Linked DNA regions of Homo sapiens. The protein of the gene in region 1 interacts with the protein of each later gene in a pairwise test. Each region holds a gene or a part of one and is shown on either strand. Other genes may lie near its edges.

The links. The genes of interacting proteins can lie anywhere in the genome.
Region 2: the proteins of RAD51 (region 1) and LRATD2 interact in binary tests that used the Homo sapiens proteins (3 or more experiments, as listed by UniProt).

The regions. Positions count from the first base shown.
Region 1 is NC_000015.10:40,705,174-40,708,673, forward strand, and holds part of RAD51 (DNA repair protein RAD51 homolog 1), read left to right. Parts: intron 1-1,003; coding exon 1,004-1,121; intron 1,122-3,500.
Region 2 is NC_000008.11:126,551,943-126,554,456, forward strand, and holds the end of LRATD2 (protein LRATD2), read right to left. Parts: 3' UTR 501-2,514; downstream 1-500.

The DNA of each region.
Region 1 (3,500 bases):
CATACGTTTTGGTATATCTTCGTTTTCATTCATTGCAAAAACATTTTCTGATTTCCCTTGTCATTTCTTCTTTGACTTGTTGCTTATTTAGGAGTGTGTTGCTTTATTTTTGCATATTTGTGAATGCACTTACTTTTCAATTTTAGAATCAACCCATAGTGCTATTACAGAACACTTATCTGTAATTACAAAATAGAATGTGAATGTTCTCAGCCAGACAATATGAAAGAAAAGGTACAGCTGATAGAGGTGGGGAAGTAGCCATGGAGAGAGAAAAGATTGAAGGGCAAATGTCCTCATTTTTACAAAGTAGGAAGTTAAGGGATACAGTCTGCGGTTGATGGAGCAGGAAATGAAGGTGTACTGTATTGTCATTTTTGTCATAAATTGGGCAAAACACATATGTACGGATCTCTAATAGTTTTTTGTTTTGTTTTGTTTTGTTTTTTGAGACAGAGTCTCGCTCTGTCCCCCAGGCTGGAGTACAGTGGCGCGATCTCGGCTCACTGCAAGCTCCGCCTCCCGGGTTCACGCCTTTCTCCTGCCTCAGCCTACCAAGTAGCTGGGACTTCAGGCACCCGCCACCACGCCCGACTAATTTTTTGTATTTTTTTAGTAGAGATGGGGTTTCACCATGTTAGCCAGGATGGTCTCGATCTCCTGACGTTGTGATCCGCCTGCCTTGGCCTTCCAAAGTGCTGGGATTACAGGCGTGAGCCATCGCACCCGGCCGGATCTATAATAGTTTTTAAAACTATATTAATATATTAACTTGAATTGGCAATTTAAAAATTGATCTTCATGGAATCTCTGAATTAGATTATCCTTTTTTATGACTTTCTAAAGAGAAATCATCCTGGTAATTTTATTTGATATTTTCTCTTCCCATTGCACACCTTGTTTTACTAATATTTCTTTTTTCTTTATATATATTTTTTTGCCATCAAGATCACTGTGGTAAGGAATATTATTTTGTTGATTTAATATTTCTTATTTTTCCCAGGCTGAGGCAGCTAAATTAGTTCCAATGGGTTTCACCACTGCAACTGAATTCCACCAAAGGCGGTCAGAGATCATACAGATTACTACTGGCTCCAAAGAGCTTGACAAACTACTTCAAGGTGTAGTAATCCTTTATCCTGTGTTGTGAACTCTAGTTAGGAAAGCTTCCAGGTTATAAAACAAAACTGAAATATTTGTGTAGCATTTCCTTGTTAGATAATGATAAAGAGATAGAGGAAGGCCAGGTGCAGTGGCTTATGCCTGTAATCTCAGCACTTTGGGAGGCTGAGGTGGGCAGATCACCTGAGGCTGGGAGTTCGAGACCAGCCCAGCCAACATGGAGAAACCTATTAAAAATACAAAATTAGTTGGGCATGGTGGCACATGCCTGTAATCCCTGTAGGTGCACATGCCTACTCGGGAGGCAGAGGCAGGAGAATCACTTGAACCCGGAAGACGGAGGTTGCTGTGAGCCAAGATTGTGCCACTGCACTCCAGCCTGGGTGACGAGCAAAACTCTGTCTCAAAAACAAAGAGAGATAAAGGAAGTATCCACATTGAAGAGGTAAGACTGCTGCAAGGTAGGACCTTATTTATAAAATACTAAACTTATCTGCAAATTAAATAATTTAGTCTCCATTTAATATTGTGTTAAGAGAGTAAGCTCCTTTTGCTTAAGGAGGTAACTGTAATTATAACCTACTCTACCACAGGGTTGAAAACCTGATGACTGGTTAAAACATTCCATGTTTGAATACTACTCATTGTGTACACACTAATCTTCAGGACTTCAGGGAAAACTATAAAGCTTTTGACCTTATTATTTATTTTTCGAGACAGGGTCTCACTCTGTCACCCAGGCTGGAGTGCAGTGGCATGGTCTCAGCTCACTGCAACCTCTGCTTCCTGGGCTCAAGTGATCTTCTAGCCTCAGTCTCCCCAAGCTAGGACTATGATCATTTACCACCTGGCTAATTTTTTTTTTTTTTTTTTTTTTTTTTGAGTCGGGGCATCACTCATTATGTTGCCCAGGCTGGTCTCAAAATCCTGAGCTCAAGCCATCCTCCTGCCTCAGCCTCCCAAAGTGCTGGGATTATAGGCTTGAGCCACCTTGCCTGGCCCAATGTCAGTTTTCTTTCCCTTTTTTTTGAGACAGAGTCTCACTCTGTTACCCAGGCTGGAGTGCAGTGGCATAATCTCAGCTCACTGCAACCTCCGCCTCCTGGGTTCAAGTGATTCTCCTGCCTCAGCCTCCCAAGTAGCTGGGACTACAGGCAAGTGCCACCATGCCCAGCTAATTTTTGTATTTTTAGTAGAGATGAGGTTTCACCACGTTGGCTAGGTTGGTCTCGAACTCCTGACCTCAGATGATCTACCCGCCTCAGCCTCCCAAAGTGCTGGGCTTACAGGCGTGAGCCATCATGCCTGGCCCCCAATGTCAGTTTTCTAATATCAGTGCTATACTATCATTATGCAAGAGGTTAACACTGCAGAAGGCTAGGTGCATAGAAATTTCGTATGTTTTTTTTTGTTGTTGTTGGTTTGTTTGTTTGTTTTTTAAAGACAGAGTCTTGCTCTGTTGCCCAGGCTAGAATGCAGTGGCACAATCTCGGCTCATTGCAACCACTGACTCCCAGGTTTGAGCAGTTCTCCTGCCTCAGTCTCCTGAGTAGCTGCAATGACAGGCACCCGCCACCGTGCCTGGCTAATTTTTGTATTTTTAGTAGAGACGGGATTTCACCGTCTTGGCCAGGCTGGTCTCAAAGTCCTGACCTCCTGATCCATCCACCTCGGCCTCCCAAAGTGCTGGGATTACAGGCATGAGCCACTGTGCCCAGCTTTTTTTTTTTTTTTTTTTTTTGAGATGGGGTCTTGCTATGTCACCCCGGCTGGAGTGCAGTGGCATGATCTTGGCTCACTGCCACTTCCGCCCCCAGGTTCAAGCTATTCTTCTGCCTCCGCCTCCCGAGTAGCTGGGACTACAGGCATGCACCACCATGCCCAGCTAATTTTTGTATTTTTAGTAGAGACAGGGTTTCACCATATTGTGCCCAGCTTTTTTTTTTTTTTTTTTGAGGAGTCTCACTTTGTCACCCAGGCTGGAGTGCAGTGGCGTGATCTCGGCTTGCTGCAGCCTCCGCCTCCCAGGTTCAAGTGATTCTCCTGCTTCAGCCTGCTAGTAGCTGGGATTACAGGTGCCCATCACCAGTTCCAGCTAAGTTTTGTATTTTTAGTAGACATGAGGTTTCACCATGTTGGCCAGGCTGGTCTCGAGCTCCTGACCTCAGGTGATCAGCCCGCCTCGGCCCCCTAAAGTGCTGGGATTACAGGTGTGAGCCACCGCACCTGGCCTTATTTGCAGCTATCTATAAATCTAATTATTTCAAAATACTTTTGGTTTATTTGTTTGTTTGTTTGTTTGTTTTGAAACAGGGTCTCACTGTGTCACCCAGGCTAGAGTGCACTGGCACGATTTTGGCTCACTGCAACTTCTGCCT
Region 2 (2,514 bases), on another chromosome or scaffold:
TGGCATCCCACACACCAGTCTGATGCCACATCTGTTCTCTTACCAACCACTGGCACCTGCATCCCTTATGCCAACAGTGCCGTGCCACTATGTTCACCCATTTTCTGTAATTATGTGGCAAATACGTTCCCTTCATCTGGAACTCTGAAGCCACTTAAGATGCAACACAGATTCCCGGTGGGCTACTAAACAGACTGCCCAGTGTAGACTCCATAATGAGTGTGGTTTCCAACAATTTTTGCATGGATTCTGAAAAATCACTATGTATTGAAAATTTATGTTCATAAGTCATTTTTCATGAACACTGATAGTTCAGCAATAACTGATTTTCACAAAGTAGATGCAGGGTTTTCAGTCACTAAATGAATTCAACAAAATGTTTACTGTGCAATACAAAGGTGATGCACGCTAATATTCTCAGAGAAATTATAGGAAACTGAGTAGCTTGAATTTGGACCAAAAATGTCAGAAAAAAGGTATTCAAGTGGAAAAAAATCCAGTGAACTCTAATAGATGGTTTATTGGAAACGCTCATAGCATCTTTTGAAAAGAACTTGACAGGTTTTATTTTAATAAGACATAGTGAAGAGGAAATGGCTTAAAAGATATCATCAATCTTTTATTTAACTAAGCACTGCCCTTCATTTTGAAGGAAATGATACAATTTCAAATCGGAACTTCCTTCTCAAGAAGTGATATAAGAATGTAACATTGATTTAACATACAACCTTCAACAAAAATAAAGTTTATACAACTCACTGGGAAATAAAATGCATGTGGAATTTATCCTGTTTGTCAACATAATTCTTCATGAGTCACAAGTATTATAGCCAAGAACAAAACAACAAAAAGCTGAATCAGTTGATAGTTACTCTGATTTAAAAAACATTTCACAAATAAGATGTAGCTTTCCAAACAAATCCATTCGATGACCATTATCACAACTATATTTTATTCTAATTTATAAAACAAAAAATGGTTAGACAAGCACATGATATCAAGAGTCTTCAACACAGTGGATTCCATTTTATTAAGAAAAAAAATAGAAAACAAGTAGTCCTTAAATTGTCTTAGCTCTCCATAGCATACGTTATATAAAATTAAAGTTTTGCTTCCAAAAATATGTTTCCATGTGGTCGTGGTGTTGTCCAGTGCTATTAGGGCCAAAGCACCAAAGACATGAGAAGTTTAACCATCGACTTGTCATTTTTCATAAAAACTAAACATTTCCTTATAGGTCTGGAGTAAAATCTTCTAGGCATTTTAGTGCTAAAAGTCACTTTAAATTAAATGTGAAATAAAAGCTACAAAAAGTATGAGTTCTTTCAATACAAAAAGTTGTGTAGCTGAAGTTGTGGGCTCCTTTGACATACATAAGCAGTTTCAATAAAATATTTGCTCAGGTAAGAAAATAGAAATTTGTCTGCTTTCATTTAGCATACGTTCCAGTCGATGTCCTGCTTATCCCTGCCAGAACTTCTGAAGAACATTAGAATCGATATTTCTTTCCTTCAAAGAGCATCCGTAATTCACAGTACAAAACAGTTCTACAGTCTTATTCCTAAGGAGAAACAAAAATTATTAAATATGTTTATTTTTTCTAAAGTGTCAAATGTAGCCACTGCCAGGGCATTAAAAACTCACTTATCCACAACACTGCCGTCTTCAGGAAAGAACCAAGAGTTGATTCATTCCCCTTTCCTGGAGCTGTTACTAGTTGGTTGTTGCTTTAAGTGTAATAACCCTAAGAAAATTCCCAATAAAAATCACTGTTCTTAAGTGTCACATATTTCACACCTCTGGTACCCTGTAGAAACGCTTGTATTACATGGGAAAGCAGCATCTGAAAAGATCTATTTCCTATTCTAGTTCATTTCCAAGCCCTGTTATTGAAAACCTCTTCTCTAGAAGAGAGAGTCACTGCTCTCTCTTAACACAGTCGCTGCTATACTTCAGCGTGACTGACCATACATCATTTTCCATTCTGGGACAGAGGAAGAAGACGGGTGGGGGAGTTGATCTGGCTAGCCCAGAGCTGGACAGTGCCATTCTATTCTTCCCTCCCACTTGTCTACACGGTGGTTATTACTACTTGCTCTGCTGCCCAGGCTGGAGTGCAGTGGTGCGATCTCGGCTCACTGCAACCTCTGCTTCCCAGCTTCAAGCAATTCTTCTGCCTCAGGCTCCCAAGTAGCAGGCATTACAGGCGCCTGCCACCACGCCCAGCTAATTTTCTGTATTTGTGGTAGAGACAGGGTTTCGCCATGTTGGCCAGGCTGGTCTCGAACTCCTAACTTCAGGTGATCTACCTGCCTCAGCCTCCCAAAGTGCTGGGATTACAGGCATGAGCCACTGTGCCCGGCCTACCTTCTATTTTCACTACTGTGTTAAGCATGAAAGAAAATCCAACTGGGTTAGATACAGCAGGTTCTCCTAAATGTCTTAACCCATGTTTATCTTGTTCTGCTATTCCATGAGCAAAGAGAATAAACACAAAGCTGTGAGAGTATTAAA